Homo sapiens: one gene and its partners. The protein of the gene in region 2 purifies or fractionates together with the protein of the main gene of each other region. This does not show direct contact. Each region holds a gene or a part of one and is shown on either strand. Other genes may lie near its edges.

Evidence for each region.
Region 1: the proteins of RTN1 (region 2) and PLSCR1 purify together in Homo sapiens (affinity purification with mass spectrometry; 2 studies listed by BioGRID and IntAct, with this or other methods). This does not show direct contact.
Region 3: the proteins of RTN1 (region 2) and RTN4 purify together in Homo sapiens (affinity purification with mass spectrometry; 4 studies listed by BioGRID and IntAct, with this or other methods). This does not show direct contact.
Region 4: the proteins of RTN1 (region 2) and FAM241A purify together in Homo sapiens (co-immunoprecipitation; 3 studies listed by BioGRID and IntAct, with this or other methods). This does not show direct contact.
Region 5: the proteins of RTN1 (region 2) and SERPINE2 purify together in Homo sapiens (affinity purification with mass spectrometry; 2 studies listed by BioGRID and IntAct, with this or other methods). This does not show direct contact.
Region 6: the proteins of RTN1 (region 2) and IFITM3 purify together in Homo sapiens (affinity purification with mass spectrometry; 2 studies listed by BioGRID and IntAct, with this or other methods). This does not show direct contact.
Region 7: the proteins of RTN1 (region 2) and TMEM120B purify together in Homo sapiens (affinity purification with mass spectrometry; 2 studies listed by BioGRID and IntAct, with this or other methods). This does not show direct contact.

Annotation. Positions count from the first base shown.
Region 1 is NC_000003.12:146,531,108-146,534,607, reverse strand, and holds part of PLSCR1 (phospholipid scramblase 1), read left to right. Parts: intron 1-1,057; coding exon 1,058-1,138; intron 1,139-3,500. UniProt on the Homo sapiens protein: Catalyzes calcium-induced ATP-independent rapid bidirectional and non-specific movement of phospholipids (lipid scrambling or lipid flip-flop) between the inner and outer leaflet of the plasma membrane resulting in collapse of the phospholipid asymmetry which leads to phosphatidylserine externalization on the cell surface.
Region 2 is NC_000014.9:59,860,777-59,864,276, forward strand, and holds part of RTN1 (reticulon-1), read right to left. Parts: intron 1-3,500. UniProt on the Homo sapiens protein: Inhibits amyloid precursor protein processing, probably by blocking BACE1 activity.
Region 3 is NC_000002.12:55,026,452-55,029,951, forward strand, and holds part of RTN4 (reticulon-4), read right to left. Parts: intron 1,770-3,500; coding exon 1,713-1,769; intron 1,035-1,712; coding exon 1-1,034. UniProt on the Homo sapiens protein: Required to induce the formation and stabilization of endoplasmic reticulum (ER) tubules. They regulate membrane morphogenesis in the ER by promoting tubular ER production.
Region 4 is NC_000004.12:112,193,105-112,195,756, forward strand, and holds the end of FAM241A (uncharacterized protein FAM241A), read left to right. Parts: 3' UTR 1-2,152; downstream 2,153-2,652.
Region 5 is NC_000002.12:224,032,787-224,036,286, reverse strand, and holds part of SERPINE2 (glia-derived nexin isoform b precursor), read left to right. Parts: intron 1-3,500. UniProt on the Homo sapiens protein: Serine protease inhibitor with activity toward thrombin, trypsin, and urokinase. Promotes neurite extension by inhibiting thrombin. Binds heparin.
Region 6 is NC_000011.10:319,176-322,119, forward strand, and holds IFITM3 (interferon-induced transmembrane protein 3), read right to left. Parts: upstream 1,686-2,944; 5' UTR 1,639-1,685; coding exon 1,390-1,638; intron 816-1,389; coding exon 663-815; 3' UTR 501-662; downstream 1-500.
Region 7 is NC_000012.12:121,715,752-121,719,251, forward strand, and holds part of TMEM120B (transmembrane protein 120B), read left to right. Parts: intron 1-3,500. UniProt on the Homo sapiens protein: Necessary for efficient adipogenesis. Does not show ion channel activity.

The DNA of each region.
Region 1 (3,500 bases), on a different chromosome or scaffold from region 2:
GTCATCATGAAGCTATTTATGAAGGAGAAAGGCCGGGGCAGGGGGTGGGGGAAACAATCCAATCTTCCTGATAAAACCACACGATTCACAAGTTGAGTGGTCTTTGAAAGTTCATAATAGAGACACATACAGAAAAATGTGTTACAGTGAAAGTTTGACCTATATGTTCTTCTATATTGATGCCATGTCTCCATGATTCTAAAACAAAAGACTTTGAATTTACAGTTAGTAATTCATAAGGAAACAGATAAGGAGATAAGTGTAGTGTCTACTGCACCTTAAGCTGTATGAAAGCAGAGCCATTGTAGCCACAGAGCCTAATTCAAGGGTGACACAGGACATGCTCAGTAAATATTTAGAGACTGGCTGCGGTAGGTAACCGAATGACTAGATAGACATGAATATTAATATTTAGGAGGTTGAACCATTTGTGCATATATTAAGTTTACTCAAGCCTTATTAGCAAATAACAAAGTTTAATATGCTAGTGTATTGTAATTAAACATGGCTTTTGTGGGTCAAAAACAGTCATATTTGGGGAATTTCATATGGTTCAACTTCATTGGTGTAGTTCCAGAGTAAGCATAACATATATAAATACTGAAGTATATTCATTATTTTAAATATTTAAAATAATACTTACAGCAATGATGATAGATATCTTTAAAATCATCCATAATTCTACCATCTTCACATCCCATTAATTTCATTTATCTCTTTCTTCGTAGTCTGTATGTAATTTTAAAGCTATCTTTGTTTTATTATCAACAAAACATGGAACTGAACATTCATCAGGGATGTTTCAAAAACTGGTAATTCAGCCCCAGTAACTTAACTGTCTCATTTTATCTAAAGGAGAATTTGTTTGAAACAAATTTGCTAGTTGCAAATTAGCTCTGAGAACAGGCACAGCTTACGTTAAGTGAAAATTTTACTTTCCCTATTTCAATACAGCATAAGAACATACAAGTTACAATTATCTAAGTACAATACATTGTTTCTTTCTAATATATATTTTATTTAATCAGACATCTATTTACCTCTCCTTGAATTGCAGACTCACAGATGAATGCTTCTCACCCGGAAACAAACTTGCCAGTTGGGTATCCTCCTCAGTATCCACCGACAGCATTCCAAGGTAAAGCAGTTGCTGAAAGAAGAAAAAGTAAAATTAATTGAGAGACAGAGAGAGAGAGTGAGAGTGGGAGAGAGAGAGTAAGAGAGAGAGAGAATTGTGCATTTGTTTTTATTTTAGTAGTTCTTTTTTTAAAATTATATTAATGAAATTTTGGCAGCCTAGTTGTTCTTGATTATTTTTATTTGGCTATCATTTTGCACAGAAGTAATTTTTATTTATAGAGGACAGTAAAGGTATAAAGAAAGCTAGTAAAAACAACATTAGGTTTACATTTAGCAAATGAAATACAAGACTGTACATCCTAAAATACAAATGTTAAGTAAAATATTTTATTGATCCTCCATCTGTTCTGAAAATTATGATCATTTAATCACATTTAGGAAATTTATTTCTGATAAACTGAGTCATGTAGTAGCTTGGCATGTGTTCAGTGAGAGTCACATCAAAATAGTAAGACTGCTTAAAACTGAAAGTAATAGAAATTCAGTTACCTGGGAATAATTCTCATTTTAATTTTATAATGTATATGAAAGCTTTATTTTTATATATATGCTGATTCCACCCTGTATTTCTAAGAAAAGTAATTGAGTCATTTGACTACATACATAATTGAGTACATTTTTTCTTTTCAACCAATGCCTGAAAGAATTCAGAGATTTTCATTTAGGCAAATGCAGTTATCAAAACTACTAGAACTTTAAAAATAGCAAAGTCCATGGCATGTCCAGATTTACAAGCAGACAGGCTACCCACATCTTGAAAGAGCATCCTGAGGATTTAGGACCAAAGGGAATGTGGTTTGGATAGAAGGATGTACCCACTGTGTTTTCTTCTCTGAGTAAACAAATGTGCTTAGGAGCTGAATGTCATGTTTAATTGCCTAGCAAGAAACCTCCCTGCGGGTCCCGGATCTCATCCAGATGTTTGCAACTGAAAGAATATGAGCTAGATAAGCTCAGACTCTCAAGTGGTGGCTCATGGCAACCTTGTCTGCACTGAAGTATCATCACCCAGAAGCACTTAAAAATAGTAGTGCAAAGGCACTATTCCAGAAAAATTAAATCATAGCTTCCAGTGGTGGGACTCAAGGAATAGTAATCTTTTAACACCCCAAGTGATTCTAAGGTGAAGCCAGGGTTGAGAACATCTGCTCTAAATTCTTATAGGGTTGGTGTTTGAAAAATCATTAGTAAGTCTATAATATTCATCCAAGGCACTTAAGAGAATGATTTAATCCACCCTATCACTAATTAAAAGTAGATATACATAAATAATACAGTTCAGATATAATCAGACTTGAGAGTTTGTTTATATATATAGATATATATGGCTCTACAGCTTGATTTTGTTTCTCAAGTCCAAGATTACATATAGCACAAGTCTTAAGATAACGATGCTAAGAGTAAGGATAATTTAAAATTGAGATCTTACCATGCTTTAGTCATTGTTTTAAATGTGGAGTTAATGTGGACTAACACTTTTAATTCTTAGAATACTCTTATGAGGTAAATACTGTCAGTTATCCCCATTATGTATGTGGGAAAGCTGAGGCATAGGAAGTTTGTATCAGGCTTCAAGTTCTGCCTACTTTAAAAAAAAAATTCGTATAGGTAAATGTGCTGGTAAACCAGGTTCTGCCTTCTGTACTAATAGTTATGTGGTAGTTTAAACAAGTTGCAGTACCTCAAAGCCTCAGAGTTCCTATCTATAAATAAGGGTGATATTTTCAATGTAGGTTGCTTTGTAGAGTAAATGAGAGTATATGTAAAACACTGAGCACAATGCTTGCAAATTATAAATGACAAGTATTTGCTAACATATTTAAAATATTTTAAATCAATTAGTCTTTACATAAATGATACTAGTATTCAAATTTCAGGTAATTCTTTATGCTTAATTCATTGATTTGAGGAGTAATCCATCATACTTTCAGAGTCTGGGGAAAATTATGATGATGTTAAAAATGTAAGAAATTAACTCACATCTCCATATCCCCACTGGTCTGCCTATGGTCTGGTTTCTGTGCTGACCCCAGTGATCTTTAAAAATGTAAATCTGCTCATATTACAGAGAGTGTAGAGCCCCTATTTTATTAGTGGCCTATTACTTTTAGGATAAAGGCTAACACTAAACTCAGGATGGCCTTTTCCATGCTCTCTCTTTAACTTCCTCTTGAGCCTGGCTTGCTGTTATTCAGCTAGACTGGCTATTTTTCAGATTTTTAAAGGCCTATGTTAGTTACTGTCCCAGGACGTTGCTCTGAAATGTTCTTTCTGTGACTCTGGCCTCCTGAACTCCTGTGCATCCTTCAGATCTCAGCATAAAGGTGACCCCTCAAGGCAGCTGTTCCTGCTCCTTCCCT
Region 2 (3,500 bases):
GAGACACGGAGTCAAAGGAGATCATTTTGAAGCTTTAAGATTTGACTGCCCTGCTGGATTTCAGACATGCATGGGGACTGTAGCCCCTTTGTTTTGGCCAATTTCTCCCATTTAGAATGGCTATATTTACCCAATGCCTGTACCCCCACTGTATCTAGGAAGTAACTAAGTTGCTTTTGATTTTACAGGCTTATAGGCAGAAGAGACTTCCTTGTCTCAGATGAGACACTGGACTATAAAATTTTGAGTTAATACTGCAACGAGTTAAGACTTTGAGGGACTGTTGGGAAGGCATGATTGGTTTTGAAATGTAAGGACATGAGATTTGGGAGGGGCCAGGGGCAGAATGATATGGTTTGGCTGTGTCCCCACCCAAATTTCATCTTGAATTCCCACGTGTTATGTGAGGAACCCAGCGGGAGGTAATTGAATCATGGGGCAGGTCTTTTCCATGCTGTTCTCATGATAGTGAATAAGTCTCACAAGATCTGATGGTATTATAAGGGGGATTTTCCCTGCCCAATCTCTCTCTTTGCCTGCTGCCATCCATGTAAGACATGACTCGCTCCTCCTTGCCTTCTGCCATGATTGTGAGGCCTCTCCAACCATATGGAACTGTAAGTTGATTAAACCTTTTTCTTTGTAAATTGCCCAGTCTCGGGTATCTCTTAATCAGCAGTGTGAAAATGGACTAATACAAGTAATAATGTAACAATAACAATGTCAAGTTAGGGGCACTGTTGTCTTTTAGGAAGATATAAACATCTTAGTGTAACTAATGACTTCCTTTCTGCTTTCCCCACATTAAAATGGCAACCTGGCTTTTGCTTGAACATCACTAACTGGGAGAGAATCTGTCTTTTCTGATCAGTTCTAATTATTAGAACATTTTCTTTCATTCAGAAGAAATCTACTTCTCCACATCACTAGTCCTAATTTTGCTCTGTGAAATCAGCTGGGTCAAGTCTTCTTCCTTTGCTTCATGAAAGTTCTTCTAGTATTTAACATTCAGATCTTCATTCTTTTCTTTTGGATAAAAATTCTTAATTTCTTTAACTATCTCTCAAATGGCATGTTTTCCAAAAGCCTCCCAATTGCCCTGCTCTCACCGTATTATAGCTCGTCAATGTCTCTCAAAACATGGCACCTACCCTTTAGTATGAGAATCCAAATTTGGCCTGCCTAGAACAGAATCTAGGGGAGCTATTACCTCGTATAATGTGCACCTGAGACTTTCTATTAATACTATCTGAAATTACATAAGATATTTTAGTAATTTCACCATACCACTAGCTCATATTTAGCTAATTACAAAATTCCCAACCCCCACCATGAACTATTTTAAGTTGCATCTCCTACGTTCTATACATATTAAATAGAATTTTCAGAACTTATAGTCAACATTTTACATTTATAATGTTACAGGCCACTGTTCTTCCTTCCCCCTAAAAGCCCCTAGGCAGAATCCTAGGCCATTATGTCCCTTCCTAAAGATATCCATTAGCGTCTGGTTTACTGTAATTCCCAGGATCTGTCATGGTTCATTGTGATGTCAGTAATCATGTAGGTGACTGTTTCACTCCTATTTTCACCTTTCTTCTGGACTCCTCCAATGACCTTGTCATCCACTCCATCTCAGTTTTCCACTGCTTCTCAGTAATAGTACCCCTCCTACTATCTACCTCAAACACCCCAGCTACCAAATCATCATCTCTTATCCTTTCATCTCCCTTACTCTAGTACCATTACTCTAGCAACCCTGCCAGCATATACAATCCACTGCTTATGTCATCTTTTTACTATGCTTCATTCCTCCTCAGCAGATTCCAAGACCAAGCATCTATATACTGCCTTGCATATATCCTCAAATCCATTTCCCATCTGTTCCCACTGGGATCACTGGAAAACAAAAATCAATCCAACTAACCCTGCACTCTAAACCAAAAACAAGATAACATATACAGTGATTGGTCTCACTTTAAGCTCTAAGTGAGCCCCAAGGGCTACTCAGTGTTCCCTCAGTTTGCCCTAGTCCTTTCACTCTCTCATTTTCCCAAACGACAATTTTATACCTTCTCCCCTCTTCTCAAACTTTCAACAATTCCACTCCTGCCTTCACTCTGTTGACCCTGCTTCCTATTTCATTGATAAAATAGAAGCAGTTAATGGAAAACTTCCACCTGTTCTCAGCCCCATCTCCAACCACTCCCTGCAGGTGTGCCCTCTCCTCTGTCTTTCCTCCATTATAGCCATGAACTGTCCTCACCTTTATCCAATATCAGCCCTTGTCTGTGTGCTGGATCCATCCCTGCTTACTCATTCAGAGACACAGTTTCAGGAAATGCCCCCACCTCCCGCAACACCAATCTTTCCCTGACTACTGCATCATTTACATCATCTTGCAAATATGCCTTAATATTCTCCATAGCAAAAAAAAAATACTTTCCCTTCTTTTCATCTCACTCTCCATACAGTTACCTCTTATTCAGTTTCCTTTATAACAAAACTCCCCCAAAGAGTCAAGTCTACAAATACCATCTCTTATTTTCTCCCCTCTCATTTGCTCTAAAACCATTTCAACCGAGATGTTTTTCCCGGCACTTTGAATGACTTCCTCATTGTCAAATCCAGTGGCTGGCTCTCAGTCTCTATCTTAACCACAAGCAGCATTTGACGGAATCAATCATTCTATTCCTCTTGACATATATTTATCTTTTCTTCTGGAGTCTCTTTCAGTTTTCCTACTTCGTCGCCCACTTTTACTCAGTTTTCTTTGAAAGACCTCTGTATATTTGAGTGACCCAGGACTCCTTGACCTCATCACTGTCAACACTCACTCCCTTGGTGATCTCATCTCTACACCAACAACTCCCAATGTATATAAGCAGATCAGATCACTCCCCAGCCCCACTCTACACTGCTTACTTGACATCTCCACTTGGACACCAAACAGACATTCAAAAATTAACATGTGTAAAACCAAACTCCTGTTTTTTCCCTAAAACTTGCTCTTCCTAAAGTCTTCCCAACCCCAGCTAATAACAACTTCATTCTTGTGTTTACTCAGGCCAAAAATCATGGCATGTCCCTTGTGTTCTTTCTAACACATTACATACATTCAGAATATATCTAGAATCCAACCACTTTTCACCTCTTCCAATGCTGTTACTCTGGTGCAAGCCACCATGATTTCTTTCTCAGATTATTGCAATGGCCTACTAGTAGGTCACTCTTGCTCCACACCAACCACCACCACCCCCATGTTAGATTCTCAACGCAGTGACTAGAGTGAGTCATTAAACTTAAAACTGAACTCTAAATATGTTCCTTCTCTATTTAACACCTCTCCCATTCCTGTGGCTCTCATCACACTCAGAGTAATATTTAAAGCTGTTACAAGGGCCTATAGGACCTAATCTATCCACTCCTCTCTACCGCTGACCCTTTGCTCATCCCCTATCATTCTCCCCTTGCTTACTCCACCTCACTGCTCTTCCTGT
Region 3 (3,500 bases), on a different chromosome or scaffold from region 2:
GCCTTCAGGCATGTTTGCCACGACTTCCTCAGTCACCTTTGTTAAATTATCTGTTGTGACATAATCTGTCTCAGAATCCTGTGCTGCTACAAGAAAAGGGTTTGATGTTTTGGTGCTAGTATTCTTCTCTGTTACTATTTGGGCCTTCTTTTCTTCTATTTTTTTTTCATCGGTCTTATTTTCTGAAGTAGGATCTCCTAACAAAGGAAAAATGTTTGTTGCAATGCTCTCAGTTGCTGCTGGGTTAAAGGGAGCACATGTGATATATGCTCCTGAACGATCCTTTATACCTTCTGGCGTACTGGGGAAAGAAGTATCATCATTACTACTCTCACTATCTTTTTCGTGATTAGTTTGCTCAAGGCTATCTGCAAAACATTTTTTATCCACTTTACTTTCCAAGTTGCTCTCGATTTTACCTCCAGCAGCCAACATATCACTATCTTCCTTACTATCTTTCACTTCCCATACTCGCTCAAATGGTTTGAAGTCTGCATATTCCTCCCTCATAGGAGCTTCCACTGCAACTCTCTTTTCATTAAAACTGTCTTTTGCTTTTTCTGAAGACACAACTTCATCCTCTTTAACCAATTTAGTAAGAGCTGTAGGTAACTCTTGTTGATTATGAAGGATGTTATTACTAACTAACTTCTCTTCTTCATCTTTATTTTTCACGATTATTTCTTCCCTAGGATTTGCTACTATTACGGCAGATTCTGCTTTTGGAGAGACACTGAACGATGATCCCATTTCTGAGTATTCTAATTCTGAAAACTCTGTTAAATCTCTATCTATGAGTAGAGTTTTTGCCTTCTCTGAGACCTCTTTAGAAGCTTCACTGACATTTTCTTGAAGTGTTCCTTCAGTGGGTAATACTGTTGACAAATTACCAAGGTATTCATGTTCTTTGAAAGAAGCGGCTGAGAGAGGAGACAGAGAAGGAAGAGAAGCAGCAGTTTCAAGCAGGACAGATGGGAAATCCTCTTGACCAGCCGAAATAGTGTTACCTGGCTGCTCCTTCAAGTCCATATTTTCTGTGACCATGGACAGAAAGGAAAGTTAGAGAATGCCAGTGTTCTCAGAGTTAATGCAAGTTTTATGACAGATCCAAAATAGTGTTAGTAAAGACTTACTGTTTACTAAAATGAAATGTTAATAGCAATTAATAAGTAACAATAGAGTAGACTTCAATCATTACTGAAAATATTAAGCTATTGTAAATATAACATATGCATGGCTACAGAGGCAATTACATGCTGTGCAAAGACAAATCAAGTCTGAGTAAACCTCAAATGTTATCAACTAAGATACTAATAGCTAGTTTTAGAGAAGAGAAGAATATCTGTGAAAAGAGTTTCGGTGACAGCATAGGAAAGAAGGGGCACTGGGTAAATGCCATAGACTGGTATTTATTTACAGGAAAGCCTTTCTGGCTATACTCAAACTGTATTTGGAGAAAGGGAATGGTAAATATGTAAATGTAATTCAAGGGTCCAAGAATTCCTTATGTACTTCCAAGTATTCATCAGATTTTGCTCATTTTTCCCTTGGGCATACCATATAAAATGCACATTTCAACTTTTCCAGTAGACAAAACATTCTCGGAACCATGCTAATTTTTAGTAAACCCAAACTACTCTGCATAGTGTTAACACACTAAAGAGTTAAAGTTAGAATACAGAGAGGATAAAAGGCTGGCAGAAAGAACTTGCCTGCAGAGGAGCGTATCACAGGCTCAGATGCAGCAGGAAGAGCAAAAAGGGTCTCATCTGAAAAACAAATAGAATATAACCTCAGCAGAAATAAAGACAGATTGAAAGGAGACTAAAGATAAGAGGAGCAAGCCAGGGTTCAGTTTGTAATAAGTTAACAAAAAACTTTACAGAGAAAGGGCCAAGATCAAAAGGAAGTCAGAAAAAGTAGTACCATTAATTCAGGTTAAATCATCATATGTATTATAAAGCTAATTAAATGTTATCCATAGAACCTATCATTTTTCAAGAGGCAATACAACCTGTTTATGTTAAAGAAACTTATGAATCAAAGTGGCTTTAAAATACTGTTCTACTTAACATATCACATCCCAAGCTTTCACTCAGGTTTTCACATAGGTAAATTGTCTTGTTCTATTCAGGCCAAAAACAAAAAGCTGAATTTGAATACAATTAACAACTACAAATGTTTAATCTTTTGTTATTGGCATATATTCAATTTAAAGAAACACTTTTAAAGAATTATGCATTTTCTCTTACATTCTAAGTTGTTACAGTCATTGTACATTGCTCTTTGAAGACATTAGTCCTGTGCCAATGTCCAAATGCCAGAGTCCAAAATACAAAAAAAAAAAAAATTAACTGCCTTTAGGATGACACCATTATTGGTTTTGCTTAAAATTAACCTAAGTGAGGGCTACTTGTTATTTGTATACACAACTAGTAAGTGAGAGACTAAGGCAATTCAATTCCAGAGCCCATTTCCTTAATCACTGTATGTTACAGAACTGAATGCTTATATTTCCTACAAAACTCATGTTAAAGCCCCAACCCCTAAAGTGATAGTATCTGAAGATGGGGACTTTGGGAGGTGATTAGGGTTAAATGCAGTCAGGGTGGGGCCCTGGGCCAAGGGGATTAATGCCCTTACAAGAAGAGACACCAGAGAGCTTGCTGTCATGCTCCCTGTCTCCCCAGGCACACACAAGAGGTCATGTGTGCACACAGTGAGATGGTGGTCACCTATAAGCCAGGAGAAGAGGCCTCAAAAAGAAATCTACCTTGCCAGCACCTTGATCTTAGACTTACCAGCCTCCAGAATTGTGAGAAGTAAATTTCTGTTCAGCCACCCAGCCTATGGTATTTTGTTACGGCAGCCCAAGCTAACTAATACACTCTATATTGGTAATATTAACTTTGTACAATGTCATCTTGTACCTGCAGTTGGGAGATCCTAAGCTAAAGATCTTCCATGGTTTACACTAGAGAAAGGCCTCTACCATCAGACAATTTGAAACAGCCTGAGAGATGACTGGAAGGTGATATTCCTTTAACAGAGAGAACCTAATAAATTTAGACAATTTCATCTGGATGGACAAGCTAGACAAGGCTGATCAAAACAGATAAAAATCCAAGAAATGTAGCTAACATGAATACGGACTTGTCTTCCAAGCATATTACCCTTAATGAATTAGGAGAGCTAACTTCACAAGGTCTTATATATTTTAGATAAATATATACTGGGCATGAAGTCATACTTAAAGGATTCCTAGATGAGGGTGATGACGGGAAATTTATGATGTGTGTTTAAAAGGGTTTCCTCCAACCTAGAGCACTAGGTAGGATGGGCTATCCAGTCAAAGGGGTAACATAATGGCTTATAAGATTTTTAAATAAAGTGCATATATATGTGTACACATATTTAAAAGATTACTTGCTATGTGATCTTAAATTACAGTTTCTCATTTGTAAAATGAAGGAAAGTTCCCTTCAGCTAAAATAATGAAT
Region 4 (2,652 bases), on a different chromosome or scaffold from region 2:
GAGCATTTTTTCATGTGTTTTTTGGCTGCATAAATGTCTTCTTTTGAGAAGTGTCTGTTCATGTCCTTTGCCCACTTTTTGATGGGGTTGTTTGTTTTTTTCTTGTAAATTTGTTTGAGTTCATTGTAGATTCTGGATATTAGCCCTTTGTCAGATGAGTAGGTTGCGAAAATTTTCTGCCATTTTGTAAGTTGCCTGTTCACTCTGATGGTAGTTTCTTTTGCTGTGCAGAAGCTCTTGAGTTGAATTAGATCCCATTTGTCAATTTTGTCTTTTGTTGCCATTGCTTTTGGTGTTTTAGACATGAAGTCCTTGCCCATGCCTATGTCCTGAATGGTAATGCCTAGGTTTTCTTCTAGGGTTTTTATGGTTTTAGGTCTGACATGTAAGTCTTTAATCCATCTTGAAATAATTTTTGTATAAGGTGTAAGGAAGGGATCCAGTTTCAGCTTTCTACATATGGCTAGCCAGTTTTCCCAGCACCATTTATTCAATAGGGAATCCTTTCCCCATTGCTTGTTTTTCTCAGGTTTGTCAAAGATCAGATAGCTGTAGACATGCGGCGTTATTTCTGAGGGCTCTTTTGTGTTCCATTGATCTATATCTCTGTTTTGGTACCAGTACCATGCTGTTTTGGTTATTGTAGCCTTGTAGTATAGTTTGAAGTCAGGTAGCATGATGCCTCCAGCTTTGTTCTTTTGGCTTAGGATTGACTTGGCGATGCGGGCTCTTTTTTGGTTCCATATGAACTTTAAAGTAGTTTTTTCCAATTCTGTGAAGAAAGTCATTGGTAGCTTGATGGGGATGGCATTGAATCTATAAATTACCTTGGGCAGTATGGCCATTTTCACGATATTGATTCTTCCTATCCATGAGCATGGAATGTTCTTCCATTTGTTTGTATCCTCTTTTATTTCATTGAGCAGTGGTTTGTAGTTCTCCTTGAAGAGGTCCTTCACGTCCCTTGTAAGTTGGATTCCTAGGTATTTTGTTCTCTTTGAAGCAATTGTGAATGGGAGTTCACTCATGATTTGGCTCTCTGTTTGTCTGTTATTGGTGTATAAGAATGCTTGTGATTTTTGTACATTGATTTTGTATCCTGAGACTTTGCTGAAGTTGCTTATCAGCTTAAGGAGATTTTGGGCTGAGACAATGGGGTTTTCTAGATATACAATCATGTCATCTGCAAACAGGGACAATTTGACTTCCTCTTTTCCTAATTGAATACTTTTTACTTCCTTCTCCTGCCTAATTGCCCTGGCCAGAACTTCCAACACTATGTTGAATAGGAGTGGTGAGAGAGGGCATCCCTGTCTTGTGCCAGTTTTCAAAGGGAATGCTTCCAGTTTTTGCCCATTCAGTATGATATTGGCTGTGGGTTTGTCATAGATAGCTCTTATTATTTTGAGATACGTCCCATCAATACCTGATTTATTGAGAGTTTTTAGCATGAAGCGTTGTTGAATTTTGTCAAAGGCCTTTTCTGCATCTATTGAGATAATCATGTGGTTTTTGTCTTTGGTTCTGTTTATATGCTGGATTACATTGATTGATTTGCGTATATTGAACCAGCCTTGCATCCCAGGGATGAAGCCCACTTGAACATGGTGGATAAGCTTTTTGATGTGCTGCTGGATTTGGTTCGCCAGTATTTTATTGAGGATTTTTATTTTTAATTTTTTGTTTTGTTTTTTGAGGCGAAGTCTCGCTCCGTTGCCAGGCTGGAGGGCAGTGGCACGATCTCGACTCACTGCAACCTCCGCCTCCCAGGTTTAAGCAATTCTCCTGTCTCAGCAGGAGTGGTTGGGATTACAGGCACATGCTGGCATGCCTGTATTTTTGTATTTTTAGTAGAGACGGGGTTTCACCATGTTGGCCAGGATGGTCTCAATCGCTTGACCTCATGATCCGCCCGCCTCGGCCTCCCAAAGTGCTGGGATTACAGGCGTGAGCCACTGCACCCGGCCTACATTTTAATTTTTACAAAAAACTCTTAAACTTTTTTGTGAGCAGAAATTCTCAAGTATCGAAGCGTGGTGTTTTAGGCTCCAGAAGAAATCCACTATTACAGTGTCCTAGTAGCCCAGACATATGTGTTAAATGACATGTATATACTTTGTTATTCTTTCTAATAAATAATACTCTTTTACAACTCTGCCTTCTGAGTGTCTCTTCCAACTCCCTATCACATGTTCTACTTACCAGTTAATGGCTGCCACATCCAGTTTGGAATGACCAAAGCAACAACAAACATCTGAGGGTGAACAGAGGTTATCTTTTTTCCTTATCCCTATTGCTGGAACAGAATGCCAAGACATGACATGTATGGCTTCCCAGGAAAGGAGAAGTGGGAAAACCAAGATCAAGACCAACCTCTGCCTCCAAGCTGTATTTTTCTTCTTTCTGTTGGCTTGACTATTGTGTAAGTTAGAATTATCGAATAAACTCTGCAGAAGCCTGCTAGCGATCCAAAACATATTTATGTTTATTAAATTTGAGTTATCTTTTCAGCAATTAAAGTTTATCATTTAATCTTTAATTGACTTAGTTGGAAATTTCTTTGCCAGTTTTCCAAAACACCATAGAATACAGTAACTTGTATCATAAAACCATGGACCTTTTTTGCTATTGGTTTCCCCCAGTATTATAAGA
Region 5 (3,500 bases), on a different chromosome or scaffold from region 2:
GCTACCTCTTGGGGTTACCCAGGGTTCGCTGTCATCCCTTTTGTGCTCTGTGTATTTGGGTGAACCATGTTCCCACAGCTTCGACTCTCACCAATATGAAGCGAGTCCCAGATTGGCATGTTAAGCTAGCTTGAGCATGCTCCTGTGTTCCAATCAGTTACCTGCAGTCTGGTGCGCTTACCCGTGCCCTTTAGGCCAAAAAAACACCCCAAAATAAATCCAAAATTGATTTTAGTTTTCACCACCCACCCCATATCCGCTTCATTGTTAGCGAAGATTTGTCCGTTTTTTTTTGGCAGTGGTTCCACCGTTCATGGAGATGTTGGAGCAGGGGTCTCACGGTGATGCCAGGCTCCCGCACTGCCCACATGCAGGCTGTCACCAGATCCTGTTGCTTCTTCATGCTGTGAAATTCCACAAAGGTCCGCTCTAGTCACGCTGGCCTTGCCTTGCTTTAGAGCCCAAAAGTGGCAAAATGGTGGCCGGTGTGCCACTTCTAGCAGTAGGCAGCAGTGTTGTTGGCCTGAACAAAGTATATACAACTTGAGTTAATATTTAGAAATCTGGAGATGCCACTTGGATGTATAGCTTCTCCTAAAAGCCAGAAGACCTGGATGAGGCAGTGCGTGGTGGCTCATACCTGTAATCCCAGCACTGTGGGAGGCTGAACCAGGCGGATCACTTGAGGTCAGGAGTTCAAGACCAGCCTGATCAACATGGTAAAACCGCGTCTCTACTAAAAATACAAAAATTAGCTGCGCCTATAATCCCAGCTACTCGGGAGGCTGAGGCAGGAGAATCGCTTGAACCCGGGAGGCAGAGGTTGCAGTGAGCTGAGATGGCGCCACTGTTCTCGAGCCTGGGTGAAAGAGTGAGACTCTGTCTCAAAACAAAAACAAAAACAAAACAAAAAAAACCTGGAATAGGAAGCTTACATTCCCATGTGGCAAACCTCAGCTGCTGCTGGGTTTCCAGTGCCTGAATACACTGGAGGTAGGTTGCTTTCTGGTTCCCCCAGACCTGTGACCCTTGCTTATAGTGGCGTTCTGGCTCCCATGGGCTTCAGAGCTAGAGACCCTAGGCTGAGACGATCATCGACAGCCTGGGAATGCCTAGTGCTTACTGCACAGTGTCGTGCACCTCATGTTGCATCCCTTCTAACTCTCTTCCATGTTATTGCTGGTGTGACTTTCCTCCTGCTGCCCCAAATCCAAGTCTTCTTGGGTCCCTCCTAATAAAATTCAATGGCTCCCTCTTGATCTGGGCTTAAATCCCTGACTCTAAAGGAGTGGCCATGTCATATCACAAGTTTGGTATCTCAAGATTGAAAGATGAGCTCTCCGCTATCTTTATACAGTGTTGTACCCGAGTTTCTGAAGATGCTTTTGAGCTTCTGTAGGGTAGTTAATACAGAGTTCTAGTGTTGATGACAGTCCTGCTGTTTACAAAGCATTTCTACAAGCCTGACTACTGCCCCACTTCCTCGCAGCCCCCCTGGGTGGAGATAGGGCAGGGTCGATTCTATATCCCAAACAGCAGTGGGGAGTCTGTAAATATGGAGGCATAGGCCATCCCAGGGAGTCCCCCACCCTTGGAACATGGGGAACCTTGTTTTACATGTGGTATCCAGAGTCATACAGTGTGTTCCTGAGGTCATTTAGACACCTTAGGGCAGAGTCTTGACCCAGAACTCAGTTCCTGTCAGCATGCAGCCAGGGAACTTTCCACAGTGCTCCATGGGCTCACCAGGCTGCTGGCCATTTGTAATGACCCAACAGAGTCAAAGCTTTCTTCACTCCCTTCCCATCTCCTTGCCTTGTCCCCTGCCTGAAACATTCTTTTCTTGCAAAACTGAACCTCCCGTAAACTGCACTGGTACCGCCCAGTGCTTTTCTGCCTTTGCTCCTTCTGTACCTCTGCCTGGAATTCCCTTTCTCCTCCTGTGTTCATTGTCTGGCTGATTTCTCCTTTTTCAAGACTCAGGCTCAAAAAGGCCTTGCTGGCAGTCACCACCCCAGCCCTCTGTGGCACATGTGCAGTGTACACACACGTCACCCCTCCCCGTGCCTACCTCAATGATGGCAGTTTTTTGTGTTGTAGCAACATGCCCTATCCAGTAGACTCTAAGCTCCAGAAAGACGTGCCTGTGTTTTAGTTTTATTTGCACCAGCGGTGGTGTGTGGCCCAAAGGCAATTAACAGATGTCTGAACTAAACCATATTCATATTTTTTGTAAGTTTACTGCATGCTTTATGGAAGAGTGTTTGTATTCCAGACTCAAAGGGGAGCTCTCTCTGCCAGACCTCCAGCCCTCATTTTGGTACTAGCAAATTTAATATATATCCTCAGACATTTTAAATTTTTGATTAACCTTGTCTTTTGAGATAAAACATTACTTAGAGAAAAGCGGAAGTCTAATACAGAAGCACTTGTGTGCCTGTGTTCACTTCAGTTATCCTCATCTGAACCTCCCTTTGGCATGGTTCTGCCCTCCTTGAGGTCTGTTGGCTGGGCTGCACTCTGCATTTCGTGGTTTTACAGGGTAGGAGAATGCATTTTGGTTTATTTCTATTAACTTTGGTGATGGTGATATATGACCTCTTGGTGACTTTTTTTTTTTTTTTGCCATGGAACTTTTTTGGCTGGTATCGTCAGTCACATTTGGTGGAAAGAGCAGGCTGGGAGAGGGTATGGGCTGCACCACCAATAGAGCGTGTAGGTTACCATCTAGAACTCAGTTTCCTTGTCTGTATAATGGGTATATTGAAATAAATGATCTAAAAGGTGTCTTATTTTTAAAACCTATAAATTCTTGGCTCAGTTTCCTTTTGATGTGGCTTTCTCATAAGTGTTAAGTCTAGATAAAATTTTTTCGTAAATGCATTATCCTGTGCTCATACACCTTAAAGTTCTTGTCTCTCACTTTTTTAAGCCTATAAAATCATTCAGCATTATATTCAGAAACAGCATCATGGGCCAACATGAAGATTTAGTTTGTATTCCCACTTAGAGCATTTATAAAAATTTTAAATAAATTAGGTCCCATATACTTGAATCTTGTCAACCTGTTCTCCACACATAAATGTGCCCATCTTCTCTTTGCAAACCATCTTTCCTCATGAGTAGATTGCACGCCTAATCTGAAAACCAATGTTGGGTTTTTAAAAAATACCCTTAGATACAGAATGGAGTCAAATGCAATAAACTACATCTTTAGGTTATCTCTTGTCTGCAAGTTCCCAATTTAAGAATACTGAGAGATTAGTATGATTTTATTTCTCTTTTGAGAAATACCACCTCCCATCCAACAGGCCAAGTCTATTTCTACAGTCAGTGAGTCTTGCCTTTATTCTGCTGTTAGATTTCTAGGTCTGGATGTAAGCCCAGTCCAGGGAAGTCGGCATCCCTTCTGGGATTCTTTCTGTGCATGAGGATGGCCACTGAGCCCAAGCAATCCTCTATTTGTAATTCCACTCGTATGTTTTGGCAAACATGTCCTA
Region 6 (2,944 bases), on a different chromosome or scaffold from region 2:
ATCTGCAGGACTGGCTGCTCCAGACAGCTCGGAGGCAGGCAGCGCGGTGCCCCCTCCACCCCGAGGAACTAAAGCCAGGTCCCCAGCACCACAGAGCAGGGCCTGGGAGCAGCTGGGGAGCCGGTGCCACCTTGCCCCTCCCTGGCCCTGCTGGGGGCTTAACCCTTCCCTCTGTCCTGAGCCGACAGCCTGGATTGCCGACAGGCCGCGAGCGTGGCCTTGGGCCCAGGGTGTCCCGGACTCAGCACTGACGTTCCCGGAAAGAGCCCACGTTGAGTAGGAGCTGAGACCTGCAGGACACAGGAACTCCTCCCAGGGTCCTGGATCCAGCTGCTGCTCACGGCAGGAGGCCCGAAACCAGAAGGCCTGAGCACTTGCCCGGTCCCCAAGAGATGCACAGAGGCCGGAAGGGGCAGTGCAGGGGCTGACCAACCTGCTCAGTCTCAGAACCACGCTCCGAACCCTCAGCCAGACCCCTCCCCAGGTGAAGTCGCAGCAGCACCAGAAACACGTGCACTTTATTGAATGCCATTGTAGAAAAGCGTGTGAGGATAAAGGGCTGATACAGGACTCGGCTCCGGGGGCAGGGCGAGGAATGGAAGTTGGAGTACGTGGGATACAGGTCATGGGCAGAGCTCCTGGCCTCAGTGATGCCTCCTGATCTATCCATAGGCCTGGAAGATCAGCACTGGGATGACGATGAGCAGAATGGTCATGAGGATGCCCAGAATCAGGGCCCAGATGTTCAGGCACTTGGCGGTGGAGGCATAGGCCTGGGCCCCGGTCACGTCGCCAACCATCTTCCTGTCCCTAGACTGGGGGAGAGGAGATGGTGAGGGGACCAGGATCCCCCAGCTGAGAGCCGCGTGCTATGGCTCCGTCTCCTCATTGGCTCTCCCCGCCCTGAGATCAGGGACCACCTCCTCCCCTTCCTCACCCGGGCTCAGACTCTCCAGGAGCCTCGGGGCTCATCCTCCTTCTGCCTTGACCTCAGCACAGGCTGTTCTCCCCACCATGGGGTGAAGTCACCTGTGAGTTCCCTTCTCACTTTCTGGGAGAGCCTGGGTGCCAGTCTGGAAGGTGAAGGTGTAATTTCTTACTGGGCTATAGGGAGAACTGCTCTGGGCTAGTGGATAGCCGGGGACAGACTCTGAGCCAGCCAGCCAGCCTCCTGGAGCCTCCTCCTAAACCTGCACTGGGCAGATTCCCCAAGCCACACACACACACAGATCACACAGACAAAGCCACTGACGTGGGCACACACGGGACAGAGGTGCACACAAACTCACAGTCACAGGGACACACAAGTCCCCACCCCAGGCAGCATGTGGGCAGGTGGAGCTCCAGGCTCAGCGGCACCCTCTGAGCATTCCCTGGGGCCATACGCACCTTCACGGAGTAGGCGAATGCTATGAAGCCCAGGCAGCAGGGGTTCATGAAGAGGGTGTTGAACAGGGACCAGACGACATGGTCGGGCACGGAGGTCTCGCTGCGGATGTGGATCACGGTGGACGTCGGGGGAGCAGGGTTGTGGGGCGCCCCCAGCACAGCCACCTCGTGCTCCTCCTTGAGCATCTCATAGTTGGGGGGCTGGCCACTGTTGACAGGAGAGAAGAAGGTTTGGACAGTGTGATTCATGGTGTCCAGCGAAGACCAGCGGCGGTCGGGTTACTGGGATGGTTCTCAGTGAGCCCTCCCTTTCCCCAGTAGTTTCGGTTTCTCAACAGTTTCCTTTTCCTGGCATTTGTCAAATCGGGATTTGGCCGGGGCCAGATGAGGGCGGAACAAATTCCTGAGGATCAAATTACTTTAGGAGAGGGAGGAAAGAGGGGCTGAGGGCTAAGAGGGGCTTCCTCTCTAGAGCCCAAGGGAGCACAAGGCTCATCTTGTTAGTGGTGTGGGGTCCTGGAGACTTCCCCTGTGTTGGGGGTCTCCACACCCCAGGCCAGCAGCTGCAGGACCCCACTGTCCCGGTTCAGGGCTCCTGCCAGGCCTGCGCTGACGCCTCCACACTCCAGGCCCCACAACCGTTCCCCCAAAGCCCTCACCTCTGCCGGGCGCCGCGGCTCACGCCTGTAATCCCAGCACTTTGGGAGGCTGAGGTGGGAGGATCATGAGGTCAGGAGATCGAGACCATCCTGGCTGACACGGTGAAACCCCGTCTCCCATAACCCTCACTGTGGTGCCCAGGCAGCTGGATTATCCCATTACCTTCACTATGGTGCCCAGGCAGCTGGATTATCCCATTACCTTCACTATGGTGCCCAGGCAGCTGGATTATCCCATTACCTTCACTATGGTGCCCAGGCAGCTGGATTATCCCATTACCTTCACTATGGTGCCCAGGCAGCTGGATTATCCCATTACCTTCACTATGGTGCCCAGGCAGCTGGATTATCCCATTACCTTCACTATGGTGCCCAGGCAGCTGGATTATCCCATAACCCTCACTGTGGTGCCCAGGCAGCCGGATTATCCCATTACCTTCACTATGGTGCCCAGGCAGCTGGATTATCCCATAACCCTCACTGTGGTGCCCAGGCAGCCGGATTATCCCATTACCTTCAGTGTGGTGCCCAGGCAGCCGGATTATCCCATTACCTTCAGTGTGGTGCCCAGGCAGCTGGATTATCCCATAACCCTCACTGTGGTGCCCAGGCAGCTGGATTATCCCATTACCTTCACTATGGTGCCCAGGCAGCTGGATTATCCCATAACCCTCACTGTGGTGCCCAGGCAGCCGGATTATCCCATTACCTTCAGTGTGGTGCCCAGGCAGCCGGATTATCCCATTACCTTCAGTGTGGTGCCCAGGCAGCTGGATTATCCCATTACCTTCACTATGGTGCCCAGGCAGCTGGATTATCCCATAACCCTCACTGTGGTGCCCAGGCAGCCGGATTATCCCATTACCTTCAGTGTGGTGCCCAGGCAGCCGGATTAT
Region 7 (3,500 bases), on a different chromosome or scaffold from region 2:
AATTCACAGATGAGGAAACTGAAGCTTGGGCATGCTGATTCCCTGGACGGGGGCCACACAGCTAGTTAGTGGTAAAGTTGGGGCCATAATTTAGTTCTCTAAATATTGGTAGGCCCCTCTCTGCCTTCTCACGTTCCCCTTCATGTTAGATGTGAGAGCTCTGAACTCTCAAGATGCAAGGCTCTGGGACTCTGTATATGGTAAGTAGGATGTCCATTGCGTATGTGCTGGGCAGTTTCGGATACGAGATATTTGTTGGGAGCTCGGTGCATTGGCTCATACCTGTAATCTCAGCACTTTGGGAGGACAAGTTGGGAGGACCGCTCCCAGCAGGATTGCCCAGCAGTTTGAGACCAGCCTGGGAAACATAGGGAAACCCCTGTCTCTACAAACAGTAAAAAAAAAAAATTGCTGGGTGTGGTGGTGCATGGTTGTGGTCCCAGCTACTAGGGAGGCTGGAGTAGGAGGGCTGTTTGAGCCCCAGAGGTCAAGGCTGCAGTGAGCCATGATTGCACCACTGTACTCTAGCCTGGGTGACAGAGTTAGACCCTCTCTCTCAAAAAAAAAAAAAAAGAGATTTGTTGGGGAACAAGCAGGTAACAGCAGGTAGGTAGGTGGGCACACTGAACTAGAAAGCTTAACAATAGGAAGGATTTTTTTTCTACTAGAAAATCCTGGTCTATTTTAATTTTCCTACATCTTCCTTAGAATCCGGGTTGAGGGTTTCATATTTGTATCTCATTGATTCTGGGGTGATGTGTAACAATGTGTAATGTCTCTGTGTCTTACCTCTTTTTCTCTTTTTTTTTCTTTCTTTTTTTTTTTTTTTGAGACACAGTCTTGCTCTGTCGCCCAAACTAGAGTACAGTGGCACAATCTTGGCTCACTGCAACCTTTGCCTCCCGGGTTAAAGCTATTCTCCTGCCTCAGCCTCCTGAGTAGCTGGGATTACAGGCACCCGCCACCGTGCCCGGCTAATTTTTATATTTTTAGCAGAGACAGGGTTTCACCATCTTGGCCAGTCTGGTCTAGAACTCCTGACCTCGTGATCCATCTGCCTTGGCCTCCCAAAGTGCTGGGATTACAGGCGTGAGCCACTGCACCTGGCTTTCCTTTTTTGAATGAAGGAAAGAAAGAGCAAACCTAATTCTCAGACCCCAGAAGATTTGAAAGATCTTTGGAATTTCCCTCCTCCCCACCCCAAGAAAACCCAATGTAATCTCTGGGACTGAGGAGAGGAAAGGATCAGTTTTCTTTGGACTGTGATTTGCATGTGTCAGGGCCTTCCTGAACCCTGGGGCACAGTTGAGTCTCCATGAGGACTTAGTTTTTGGGTGGCTGGGGTTTCAGGCATGCTGGTGAGTTGAGTGCTAGTCTGAGACCAGTGTGCTCCTGGTCTCCTGGCCTGTGGCGTGACCGCAGAAGGTCACTTACAGACACAAGGGCAAGTAATTTAATGAGCATTTCCTGCCTTGCATCACTGGAAACCTGATCTCGTTCCTCCCAGCCAAGGAAGAAGGTGGCCCGTAGCAGCTTTTCCCTAAGTCTGACCTCACAGTGATGCAAGGGCCTTGAAGGCCATGGTAAAGATTTTGGCTTTTACTGCTAATGACATGTACATCCGTCTGGCTGCTGTGTATAGAATAGACATCAGGGAGACAGGCTCGAAGCAAGAAGATCAGCATTATTTCATTAATAACCCTATGAAATTGATCCTAGAATCTCTGTTTTACAGAGGTTAAGTCACTTATCCAAGGTCACATGGCCTGTCAGTGCAGGAGCCAGGATTCGAACCCAGGCTGTTGAACACCAGTGTCTGTGCTCTTAACTACTGCCCTAGGCTCATCTGTGCCCTGAGTACTCCTGTTAGCTTTTGTTTCTCTTCTATCTTGGCTTGTGGGGCGTCTTTCTTTCTTTTTTATTTGAGACGGAGTCTCGCTCTGTTGCCCAGGCTGGAGTGCAGTGGCTCGATCTCAGCTCACCACAACCTCCGCCTTCCAGGTTCAAGCGATTCTCCTGCCTCAGCCTCCCGAGTAGCTGGGATTACAGATGTGTGCCACCACTCCTGGCTAATTTTTGTATTTTTAGTAGAGACAGGGTTTCACTATGTTGGCCAGGCTGGTCTCGAATTCCTGACCTTGTGATCCGCCTGCCTCAGCCTCCCAAAGTGCTGGGATTACAAGCGTGAGCTACCGCACCCAGCCGGGCATCTTTCTTTAGTAGCAGATTGTGCAGAAAAAGACACTGCACAGGGAATCAGTATTCTTGAGTTCAGGTCCTAGCTTTGCCATTGTCTAGTATCTGAATTTGGTGAGCCACCTCTCTCAGGTTGAGTTTCTTTATCTAAAAACAAAGGCTGACAATAATAATAATCATAACAACAACAATAACAATAATAGCTAACTGCGTGAAACACAGATTATCCCATTTAATCTAAATATCAACCCATGGCCTGGCGCAGTGGCCCATGCCTGTAATCCCAGCACTTTGGGAGGCTAAGGAGGGCAGAGCACTTTGAGCTTAGGTGTTCAAGACCAGCCTGGGCAACATGGTGAAACCCCATCACTATAAAACAAACAAACAAACAAAAAACAAAAAAAAACCTTAGCTGGGCATTGGTCGCTCGCTCCTGTAATCCCAGCTACTTGGGAGGCTGAGGCTGAAGAATCGCTTGAACCCAGAAGGCGGAGGTTGCAGTGAGCCAAGATCGTGCCAGGGTACTCCAGCCTGGGTGACAGAGTGAGATCCTGTCTCAAAAATAAATGAATGAGTGAATGAATGAATGACAACCCTGTTTTTTAGATGAGGAGATTGAAGCTAAGAGATGCTGAGTAACTTGAAAGTCATGGAGCCAGAATTCGAACCCATGCCTGCTGTATAACTCAGATACTAATACCGTGGGCTCCAAAAGTATCCTGAGACTCTTAGCTCTAGAAGAAAAGTTTTGAACTTGCTGGGTCCCTTTTCATTTATATAGTGCTTTCACACAATGCACTATCAGGACTCTTAGTTGCAAATGAAAAAAACCCAGTCTGACTGGTTTTAAGCCAAAAGAGGGTTTATTGAGTCAAGTCTAGTGGCAAATGGCTTCAGGCAAGGCTGGATCCAGGAGCTCAGGTGATGTCTGTGTCTGTGTGTGGATGTCTCTCTCTCTCTCCTCTGTGTCAGCATTATTCTCAGGCAGTCCCTCCCATGTTGTGGCAAAGATGGCCAGGTGGCCCTCAGCTGACATCTGTCAGCTTAGCAGCTCTGGCAGAAACAGAGCATCCTTTCCCCCTGTGGTTTCAGCAAGCGTCCCAGGGCTGACTCTCATTGGCCCAGCTTGGGTCATGTGACTATGCCTTACTTAACCAGTCACTGTGGCACTGATTGGCCAGGTCACGGTCACATATCTGCTCCTGAAGCCTAAAAGTGGGATCAGTGCCACCACACTACATGAAACGAGTTGGGGAGGGATGGTCCCATGAAGGAAAATCAAAAAGCTGGTAGTTTAAAAAAAA